Homo sapiens: one gene and its partner. The protein of the gene in region 1 interacts with the protein of each later gene in a pairwise test. Each region holds a gene or a part of one and is shown in the gene's direction. Other genes may lie near its edges.

Evidence for each region.
Region 2: the proteins of CCBE1 (region 1) and STX11 interact in binary tests that used the Homo sapiens proteins (3 or more experiments, as listed by UniProt).

Annotation. Positions count from the first base shown.
Region 1 is NC_000018.10:59,435,229-59,442,526, reverse strand, and holds part of CCBE1 (collagen and calcium-binding EGF domain-containing protein 1 precursor), read left to right. Parts: intron 1-2,710; coding exon 2,711-2,850; intron 2,851-2,948; coding exon 2,949-2,984; intron 2,985-4,380; coding exon 4,381-4,416; coding exon of another isoform or gene 4,417-4,486; intron 4,487-6,385; coding exon 6,386-6,619; 3' UTR 6,620-7,298. UniProt on the Homo sapiens protein: Required for lymphangioblast budding and angiogenic sprouting from venous endothelium during embryogenesis.
Region 2 is NC_000006.12:144,188,503-144,192,723, forward strand, and holds the end of STX11 (syntaxin-11), read left to right. Parts: 3' UTR 1-3,437; downstream 3,438-4,221. UniProt on the Homo sapiens protein: SNARE that acts to regulate protein transport between late endosomes and the trans-Golgi network.

The DNA of each region.
Region 1 (7,298 bases):
CAAACTCCTGACCTCAAGTGATCTGCCCACCTCAGCCTCTCAAAGTGCTGGGATTACAGGCATGAGCCACCGCACCTGGCCCCAATTTTTAAATGTTAAGAATGCTCGGAAGAAAATGATACACATAAACAGAAAACACATACATGTACAGTGCATGAATGCATATAAACACACACATTATACTATAGATATACTGCAAGCATGTACAATGAAGAAAGCAGTTAATTCTTACTTTCAGAAGCCCGTATCGACACAGCACTGAGACTATACCGAGTTTAACTTTCAGAAGCCTGTATCGACACAGCACTGAGACTATACCGAGTTTAACAAGTCATCTGTTTTTGTGCCTGTCTGATGATAGTTGTTGGTACGACGGGGGAGATGTTAAAATGTTTTTGGAGATAGGTGATCTGTGGTGATGGAGACAAGACAGAAAGAATAGTGTGAGCTGGATTGTGTGCTATGGTATGGTTTATTCAGGGAGGATGGGACTATGGGGCAATTAGGAAGGAGGCAATCATGGAAAAAATGCTTGGCAAGAAAGACAAGAATGAACAAGGATACTATGCTGAGGAGTTAGAGCTTTATTCTCTATGCAGAGGGGAGCCACTGTAGGGTTTTCTTTTTCTCCTTGGACTCCAATTACACTTATGTTAGATGGTTCGATATTATCTCACCTCTTTTGGATGCTTCATTTTATCTTCCTCTTTGTGATTCACTTTGAGTAACTGTTGACTTATCTTTAAGTTCACTGATTCTTTGCTCAGCTGGGAGCAGTCTGTTGATGAGCCTATATTGTTTTCATACATGATATTATATTTTTCATTTCCATTTGACTTTTTCCTTTAATTTCCATCTCTCTGCTGAAATCCCTCATCTGCTCAGACACACTGTTTATCTTTTCCAACAGCACCGTTCACATGCTGTTATTTTAAAGCCCATATCTCATTATTCCAACATCTGGGTCCCCTCTGAGGCTTGTCCTGCTGATTGTTCTATTACTTGACAATGTGTTTTTTTGTTTTGATTTTTTTTTTTTTTTTGAGATGGAGTCTCGCTTTGTCACCCAGGCTGGACTGCAGTGGTACAATCTCAGCTCACTGCAACCGCCGCTTCAGCCTCCTGAGTAGCTGGGATTACAGGTACCCACCACCACACCTGACTAATTTTTGTATTTTTAGTAGAGATGGGGTTTCACCATGTTGCCCAGGCTGATCTCGAACTCCTGACCTCAGGTGATCCACCCGCCTCAACCTCCCAAAGTGCTGGGATTACAGGCATGAGCCACTGTGCCCAGCCCTTTTCTTTCCATGTCTGAAAATTTTGGATTGAATGCCAGACATCATTTGCAGAGAAACAGTAGAGACTGAGGCACATGGTTATCACTCCTGGAGATGGGTACTCTCTTCTTTTGTCAGGCCACTGCCATGGGAAGCTAAGTCAACCTAATGAATAACTGAGCTGGGTTTTGGCTTTATTGTCACTATATTTACTTTGTGTTCCACAGTCTTCAAATAATTCCTCCAATGGAAGGATGCTGTTACCTTATGCTTAGTGGAGGCCTAGGTTACCAGTGGATTTTTCTCAGTGTTTATACTCTGAGCTTTCAGCAGCCCCTACACACACACCTGTGCCACAGAGGGGTTCTCTCCCCACACTGTAGATTGCTATTACTTACTCCATGCTAGAGTTGTGGGGCAACGGGACATTTTCAGTTCTCCTGCTCCAGCTGCAATCCTAAGCATGACCTATGCTTCTGGGCCTTGGGGTGAGATGATCTTCCCCATATCCCCCAACTCATCCCCCAGCATGCCTTGTACCTGTGGCAAATCTTAGCCAGAAGAACATTTCCTACCCCTCACTAAGAAGTAAGGGATATTTCTCTGGGGCCTGCAAGAGAGAGTGAGTTTGCTGACCCACCGAGTGCCTTGAGACATTTGCACCAGAAGGTTGAAAGTAGGTGGGTTACATAGTAAGACTTGTTTTAGATGTGTCATCCCTATAGAAATATCAAAAATGGGCAAGGGGTGAAAAGACTGGTTCGGGGCAGAAAGACTAGCAATGAGGCAAGAGTCAAAGCAAATATAAGGAAGGCCTAGCAGATGTTTTAGTACTTACTATGTGTGAAGTACTATACTAAGTGCTGTGTATATATCTGAAATCTCATGTAATGCAACTACTCCATAAGGAAGATTTTTATTAGCCCACTTTTACAGATGAGATGAGAAACTAAAGCTCAGATGGCTCAGGCAACTTGTCAGATTCAAACCCAAGTCTCCCTGATGCTAAAACCTGTACTGCTCTCCAGCCATGATCACCACTTCTCTGTGGTGGTGGCCACTACTCTGCTGTGATCCAGTGGATAGAAGGGAGCAGACAGCTGTGAGATGTTAAAGAGGTAAAATGCACAGGAGCTGGCCACTGATTCAAAAAGGAGGTTGCAGAAACAGGGAAATATAGAGGAAGACTCTCCAGTTTTTGGCTTGAGTGGATGTATGACTGGCAGTCCGCGAAAAGAGAGGAAGATGGGGAAGCCGCTTTTGATCGTATCAAGTTTAAAATGCCTGTGGGACAGCCTGATGGAGATGTCAGAAGGCAAAGGCAGAGAGAGTACAAAGAGAAATGGCTGCAGGGGTCCTGGACTCTTGTTAGCCAGGGCCCTTTGTCCTTCTCATGTGCTGTGAGCTAATGAGGTGTTCTTTGATTACAGGCTCACCAGGACCAAAGGGAAGCCCAGGCTTCCCCGGTATGCCAGGCCCTCCTGGGCAGCCCGGCCCACGGGGCTCAATGGGACCCATGGGACCATCTCCTGATCTGTCCCACATTAAGCAAGGCCGGAGGGGCCCTGTGGTCAGTATCTTATCAGAGATCCACTTCCTTTTTGGGGGAAAATGTGTTTTTGTCCCATGCTTTTGCCTGTGGTTAAACCAGATCCTTTTGTATTACAGGGTCCACCAGGGGCACCAGGAAGAGATGGTTCTAAGGTAAGCCTTATGAGTGGTCCTCACAAGCTAAAGGTCTCTCACTTTCGATTTTTTTGTTTTGTTTTGTTTTTGTTTTTTGAGATGGTCTTGCTCTGTCACCCAGGCTGGAGTGCAATGGCACAATCTTGGCTCATTACAGCCTCTGCCTCTCTGGCTCAAGCCCAATTCTCCCGCCTCAGCCTCCCAAGCAGCTGGGACCACAGGTGTGCACCACCACTCCCGGCTAATTTTTGGATTTTTCTTTTTTTTTCTTTTTGAGACAGAGTCTCACTCTGTCACCCAGGCTGGAGTGCAGTGGCACGATCTCAGCTCACGGCAAGCTCCACCTCCCGAGTTCACGCCATTCTCCTGCCTCAGCCTCCCGAGTAGCTGGGACTACAGGCGACCGCCACCACACCTGGCTAATTTTTTTGTATTTTCAGTAGAGACAGGGTTTCATCGTGTTAGCCAGGATGGTCTCCATCTCCTGACTTCGTGATCCGCCCACCTCGGCCTCCCCAAGTGCTGGGATTACAGGCGTGAGCCACCACACCCGGCCTAATTTTTGGATTTTTTAGTAGAGACGGGGTTTCGCCATGTTACCCAGGCTGGCCTTAAACTCCTGACCCCAGGTGATCTGCCCGTCTCAGCCTCCCAAAGTGCTGGTATTACAGGTGTGAGGCACCGCTCCCGGCCTGAAGGTCTCTCACTTTCTACCTCTTGCACTGACATCCAGGAAAGCTCACCAGACACTGTTTACCAACCCCATTTTGCATGCAGCAGAAGTGAGACACAGATACCAGATAGAACTTTTTCCCCAAAGCTGGGAACAAAATCTGAAAAGCCATTGTCTTCAATTCCAAAACCAACCCCAAAGACAAAAACAACCACCACAACCACTCATAGGAAAAGTGACCCCTGTAAATTTTAAATGAGCCTCTGTGTTGTGATTCTCACATGTGTTTTTCTCTTTAACCAGTGTTGCTTTACGGGATAGCTTTTTGTGTGTTTCCATTTCTGTGAGATTTCTCAGGAACAGGAGATGCTCCATTCTTTTTGCAAGCAGGGTGGTTCCCCTCTGAGAGCTGCCTGCTCTTTTTTGCCTCACAAAGAAGTCAGTGTGAGTTACTTCAGAAAGTTTGTTACTCCACATGCTGTTGGGAAATATGAACATTCCTCTTGCCAAGAAGGTTTGAAAATAGATGGGCTTGAGGGAAATCAGAATGAGAGACACTTGACCCAAGCAGTCCTGTTCAAATAAGTGGTCCCGTGAGTCCAGCTCAGTTTTACATATGTTTTCTATAGAAAATGTTTATTGTTTTGTGCAGGGAAGTGGTTATGGTGGGTGTATAAATAGAGACTATTCTTGTGATATCCATGTGCTCTAGAAAGCTAACCCTGGCCTTTCTGTTTTTAGGGGGAGAGAGGAGCGCCTGGGCCCAGAGGGTCTCCAGTAAGTAGCACTCTGTGTCCTGCTTCCCCAGGGGAACGTTCTCAGGGATGCAGCTCTGATGAGCCTATAGGTTGGTCTAGTAGCAAAAGCCCGCCCCTTCCTGATGCCACTCAGCCCACCTGAACAGAACTCTGTGGTTAGGAAGAGAGTCATAGAAGCCCTTAGCTGCTAGTTTGGATTTATTTTTCAAATTTGTTTTCTGTTGCTGTTTTCTCTTTTATCATGGCTAATCTTTATTTGAAATGTCTTTCCTAAAGCTCAAAACCCTGCTATGCCATGAGTCTGTTTCCAAGTATTATCATAAAACATTTGAAAGGTCTAGGAAGGAAATCTATGGGTTTAAATCATAACTCTGCGTACTTGAGAATTTAGCCACTGCTGCAACCCTAGCAGGCCAGATGGCCATCTCCTCTTAAAAAGTGCAAAACCACGCAGGGCTGTTTAGGACCTGAGAAGAAATTAGCTGCATATAAGCATAGTATCTGGGAGATTAAAAATGAGAAATAGTAGTATTCAAAAGCATAGAAAATTCAAACCACGTCACTGCTTCTGAAGAAGTATCATTTCTGAAATCCAGCGGCTGTGGCCACAGAGGTAGGAGTCGTGGGTTCCCATCTCAACTCTTCTACCTGCTGGCTTTCTGACCACGGGCACTTCACTGAGGGTCTCTGGGCATTCTTGCCCCCCACTGTGCAGTGGCGATAGTGGAATCTGACCTGCCATCCCTGAAGTGGCTACTGTGAGGGTCAAATGATATGAAAATACTGTGCCTCTCTTAGTGCTTTACGGTGTAAGCTCTGCTTCCACGGTGCCCGCTGCTGTAGCAGCAGTTGCGGGAGATGATAACGATTTTACTACAAGCTTCTGACAAGCCCAGAACATGCGTGTTTGTGCATTTCTTTTTTACCATGCCCCACACAGCGCTATATGAAATTAAGGCTTAGTAAATACTATATGATGATAAAGGATACTCAATACATAGAAAAATTAGGAAGATTTTGTTTGGACCTTTCCTAGTCAACGAGGAGTTGACGTCTTTACAACATCCTCTCAACTTCATTTAGTTTGTGCTTATAGTCAGCCATCTTATAAACATTTTAATAATTTTGCTTTTAAAAAATAACAGCATTGTTTTTTTTGAGACAGGGTCTCACTCTGTCACCCAGGCTGGAGTGCAGTGGCACAATCTTGGCTCACTGCAGCCTCGACCTCTTGGGCTCAAGTGATCCTCCCACCTTAGCCTCCCAAGTAGCTGGGTCCACAGGTGCCCACCACCACACCTGGCTAAATTTTTGTTAAATTTTTGTAGAGACAGGGTTTCACCATGTTTTCCAGGTTGGTCTTGAACTCCTGGGCTCAAGCTATCCATCCACCTCGGCCTCCCAAAGTGCTAGGATTATAGGCGTGAGCCACCACACCTGGCCCAGATAACATTTTTGAATACGTATTATGCTCAAAGCCCTTTACACGTATTTACTTGCTTAAATCCTCACTTATGAATCCTACAAAACCCTATGAAGTTGGGACTATTATTATCCCCGTTTTACAGATGGGGAAACTGAACCACAAGAAATTAAGATGACACAGCTAGTAAGCGGCAGAGATGAGATTCAAATCCAACAGAACCCCAGTCTCTTAACCACTGCTCTGCTGCCTTCATAAGCATCTTCCAGACTGCTTTGGAAAGTAACCTAGGAGAGTTATTCTTATATCCTTTCCTCTACTGGATTTGATAAAGCGTTAGGAGGGAGGAAAGGTGAATACATCACCAAAGCTCAGCTGAGAAGTGACAGAATTAGAAAACAATATGGAGGACCCCCAGGCTCCTGTAGCAGTCCTCACATTGGCTCCATTTGGGGCACAGAGTTATTGAGAAAGTAGTTGCCAGCAAGCAGCAGGTCAAGTCATGGAGCCCCGGAGGCCATTGCTGTCTGTCGTATTCTAGCTTTGATTCCTCCCATGTACACAGGGACCCCCTGGTTCTTTCGACTTCCTGCTACTTATGCTGGCTGACATCCGCAATGACATCACTGAGCTGCAGGAAAAGGTGTTCGGGCACCGGACTCACTCTTCAGCAGAGGAGTTCCCTTTACCTCAGGAATTTCCCAGCTACCCAGAAGCCATGGACCTGGGCTCTGGAGATGACCATCCAAGAAGAACTGAGACAAGAGACTTGAGAGCCCCCAGAGACTTCTACCCATAGCACATCCCAACACCGTCACGCCAAAGGAAGAGAAAGATCAACTCACCTGCAGTTAAACCATCTAAAGAGAAGAAAGACCACTGGAGACCTAGAAAACATACATTTTTCTCTTCTCTTCTCCTGACGTCTCTCCACTCCTCTTCTTCCAAATACGATGCTATTTTCAGAGTCCCCTCCTAGGCCTGCAGACATGAGGGAGTGAATGATTGATTTACCTGCTTCTCACTAAGAGTCCATTGGGGTGGTTTGCATTGTAACTTTTCTTTTACATCCTATTTTTCCAGGAACTTTGGATTTAAGTACTCTCACAGTGTCTTAAATCATAAATTCTTGAAGTTAAATTTGGCAGAGTATCAAAAGGGGGAAAATGACAAAGTGAGCTCTAAGAAAATGTGAGGCTACTTCTAAGATGTGTGTTCACAATAGACCATAACTCCTCTAGTATCAAAATTGGGGCTCTTCAGTTAAAAAGGGGTGGGGAGGACAAACGTGTCGATGTGCTTTGGTGGAGAATTTTTTCCTTGTGCTTCTAGTAGACTTTAAATATTGTATCCCTTTGTCAAACCTTGTTTCCCAAATTCAATTAAAGAGAGGAGAGAATTGAATGGCGTTTAGAGAAGATAGAAAAGAATCACAGTCATATATTTACTGTTATATAGATTGCCACATTCTAAAATTC
Region 2 (4,221 bases), on another chromosome or scaffold:
GAAAATGTATACGGAGCTAGAGACAACTAACATTCTTGGAAATACTGCTTTTGTTTTACTGTGGACCATTCCTTCCATGCATTGAAATGGAGAAATTCAAAGTAAAAGAATTCTGTTTTTCAAGCAAGCTTAATAAACATTACATTATACACATATTTTTATACATTTCTGGCTTGACCATTTAGTTTACTTTCTCAATTATTGTTAAAATTTTTCTTTTTCCTTTTTTTTTTTTTTTTTTTGAGATGGAGTCTCACTGTGTTGCCCAGGCTGGAGTGCAGTGGCAGGATCTTGGCTCATTGCAACCTCTGTCTCCCAGGTTCGAGCGATTCTCCTGACTCAGCCTCCTGAGAAGTTGGGACTCTGGGCGCGTGCCACAATGTCTGGCTAATTTTTTATGTTTTTAGTAAAGACGGTGTTTCACCGTGTTAGCCAGGATGGTCTTGATCTCCTGACCTCGTGATCCGCCCGCCTCAGCCTCCCATAGTGCTGGGATTACAGGTGTGAGCCACCATGCCTGGCCTTTTTTCCCCCCTTTTGAGACAGGGTCTCCCTTTGTCACCCAGGCTGAAGTGCAGTGGCATAATCATGGCTTACTGCAGCCTTAAACTCCCAGGCTCAAGTGATCCTCCCACCTCAGCCTACAAATAGCTGAGACTACAGATATGTGCCACCATGCCCGGCTAATTTTTGTATTTTCTGTAGAGACAGGGTTTGCCATGTGGCCCAGGCTGGTCTCAAACTTGTGAGCTTGAGCAATCCGCCCACCTTGGCCTCCCAAAGTGCTGAGATTACAGGCCTGAGCCACTGACCCTGGCCAAATTTTTTTTCTACTAGCTACTGAGGCTGCCACATCTGGATGGAACTGAGTGGAGGGGGAAAAGAATGAAAAACTCAAAAGAATTCCCATGAGGGTGTCTTGCTTTCTCTCCTGAGTTACAATACTTTAGCAAAATCATGAGGCTTTAGAGATATGGTGTAGTCTGCAAACTTCTTAATGCCCTTACCCACATTTACCATGTTTCCTGGCCTTCCTCTGTGTCAACTCTTAGCTCTTCCTAATCATTATTTAATACATGAGTGAGTTTAGTAGTGATCATATTTCTCAGGTCCTTTAGAAGCTGGAATTTTAAAAGAATTAGAAGGAGGAGTATGTGAATTCTTTGGAGCTCACTGCCTGACTTGCTTATGACCAGGAAAATCTATCCCCTGTATCTAATTTTAATTTCATGGTTAAATTTGAGAATTGTGGAAACCAAGTTCCACAAGGCTATTCTCATATTTCTCCCAATTTCTTTTTCAGCCAACTCCAAGGATATGTATCACCTTTGACTTAATTTGCTTTCTCTAAGGGAAAGGGGAAAAAATGTTCACATAGCTCCACTGCAATGTTTTTTATAATAGAGGAGAGATATTGTAAATAGAGACTGCCAGCCAGTTTCCACAAAAAAACGAAGAGTTCATAAATTTGACATGTTTGAACCCATAAAGCATTTTCTTTGCTTGGAACCATTATAAAAGTAAGTGAGTTTTCAGGCTCTATATACATTTTAATTCCTCACGTTTTATATTGGAGAGTTCGGTACAGACTGTCCATTACTGCACCAAAAGAATGAGTGAACTGTTACCTATAGGGAAAGAACACTTCTTCTTCCTGCTGTTTGGGAACCATCTCAGTGTGGCGTAATGGTTAGGAGTACAGATTCCAGATCCTGTTTCTTAGATTTAAATCTTGACTCTGCCACATACTAGCTGTCTGACTGAACCTTGGTTTTTCTGTGCTTCAGTTTCCTCATCTGTAAAACGGAGATAACAGTACTTACCTCATAGAGCTGTTGTGAAAAGTGATGACTGAATATGTAAAAGCACCTAGAACAGTGCCTGGCACATGCTAAGTGCTTTGTTCATTATTGTTGTTATTATGTAATTTTCTCTCAGACTGAGAGCACTGTTAGTGACCCAAGTAAATTTATAGTTTTTAAGTACAGAGGAAAAATAAAGCCTATTTTTTGTTAACAGTCTTAATAAATAATAAAATGGAATAAAGAAACCAAGACCCCATCTTCTGTGAATATTAGGGCTTTTTTTTTTTTGACAGTCATAAAGATGTTTTCACTATGGCATTTCTATCCCTGTGTATATCCAAACATGTCCTGAAGAAGAAATGAGATGTTCCACCAAAAACACGTAAGCAGGAAGCAGCTGTTCTGCTCAGCTTGGCAGGTGTTCTTTCCTAATTCTTCCCAAGCTGTGAGTCAGAAAGTCCTGGAAGGAGTTGTAGGAAGTTGTAGAGGCTGGGTCACTGACCTAAGAGAAGGCATCATTTGGCCCACTGCACGTCCTGGCCTATTCACCAAAGCCCTTCCTGGCTCTGACTGCCACACCAGGCAGTGGGTGAAATGCTGGCTTTTTCCTTAAGAAATTGTGTTCTAGTGCCACCAAGAGATGCTGTAGAGCTGGCTTTACCAATCTCATGATGCTTGCTTGGCAACTCTGAAAGGTGACTTTGGCCAAGAAGACCTTGTGGCAATTCTGCAAATTTTATACACTCATATCTTTTAGGGTACAAAATGAAAGAACAAATCACAAAGAACAATAGATCCTTCAGGAGCTGAAGGTAAGAATCTTTTATAGCTATTTTAACATATACAGTGACTACTTTCTACTAGCCAAATATCAAATTTTACAACTACCACCAAGCCACAGATTATAGGTGGTAACAACTCCAGAAATGTCCTAACTAGGAAAGGTGCTCATCTAGTATGCATCGGTATCCAGGATAATATGAGTTAGAATTTTAAAAATGTCAGTCATTCAAAAATATTTGAACTGTGACATCACAGAAGTAATTTTATGGCCTTTTAAGGTAACAACTTAAAAAGAGAACAGTACTCTTTTTATATCAATGCCTTTACATTTATTTAAAAACAGTCCTAATGCTTTATAGTTAAATGTCATATGCAGATATGTTCAGGCTCTAACATATAAAGTTCCTAACTTGACAGGAAACTACTGAAGATTGTGTACAGCTTAAAAAAAAAAATAGGGTAACTATAGTCTTGATTTTTATGTATAAATTCTATCATTCTATATTTTACCATCAGACATATTTCTACTCCTTTCTTTGAAGTATGCGAAGTATCTCCAACTGCAGCATGCAACTCATTCATTTGTAATCAAGACGATAGTTTGAAACACCCAATTGTAATCAGAGCAACAGTTGACTTCCTTTTGATAGCGGAGTTGAAAATCATTGCAATTAATAAAATGGGGCTATTAGAAATGGAAAACGAATAGGATCTAGAATGTAACTTCATCATATAAATGATGAGTGTCTTTGTTATCAACACGTTATTAAGAATGGGCAAGATGTCCTTATATACTAGAAGCTTTTGTAAAGTCATGTGTCTATTGATAATAAAGATTTTCGGAACTGATGTTCTGAGTGAGACTACAAAGGATGCTTTAAAACGAGTGATATCTGGCCGGGCATGGTGGTTCCCACCTATACTCCCAGCACTTTCGGAGGCCAAGGCAGGCAGATCACTTGAGGCCAAGAGTTCGAGACCAGCCTGGCCAACATGGTGAAACCCCTTCTCTACTGAAAATACAAAAATTAGCTGGGCATGGCAGTGCATGCCTGTAATCCCAGCTACCCTGGAGGCTGAAGCACGAGGATCACTTGAACCAAGGAGGCAGAGGTTGCAGTGAACTGAGATCGCACCACTGCACTCTAGCCTTGGCAACAGAGTGAGACCCTGTCTCAAAAAACAAGCAAACAACAACAATAAAACCAGTGATGCCCTGCAAAATGAGGATTGAGAGACAAGTCCCCAACACTATATTTTTTAATTCCTGATGTTTCTTTTTAAGTTACATTTTATATTCTATTTGAAGCATCTATAGACACTTCTTGGACCTCTTCTATTTTTCTTAGTCTATATTTCTATATTTTCATGGTCCTATAGCCAACTCTTTAGACATATCCACTCTTCTGTATCTCAGCATCCCATAATGTTTGATAGAGGGTAAAAATAACAGAGTATACACACACACACACACACACACACACACACACACACAGAATCTACCATCGTCCCCATCCCCTGCTCCTTCTGTCTATCTTAACTTGCAAATGGCAGGATCAATCAACTGCCACCTGCCCAGGTCAGACAATTATCCTCTCTTGCTTCCATTACTTCAGCAGCTTTTAATTGGCCT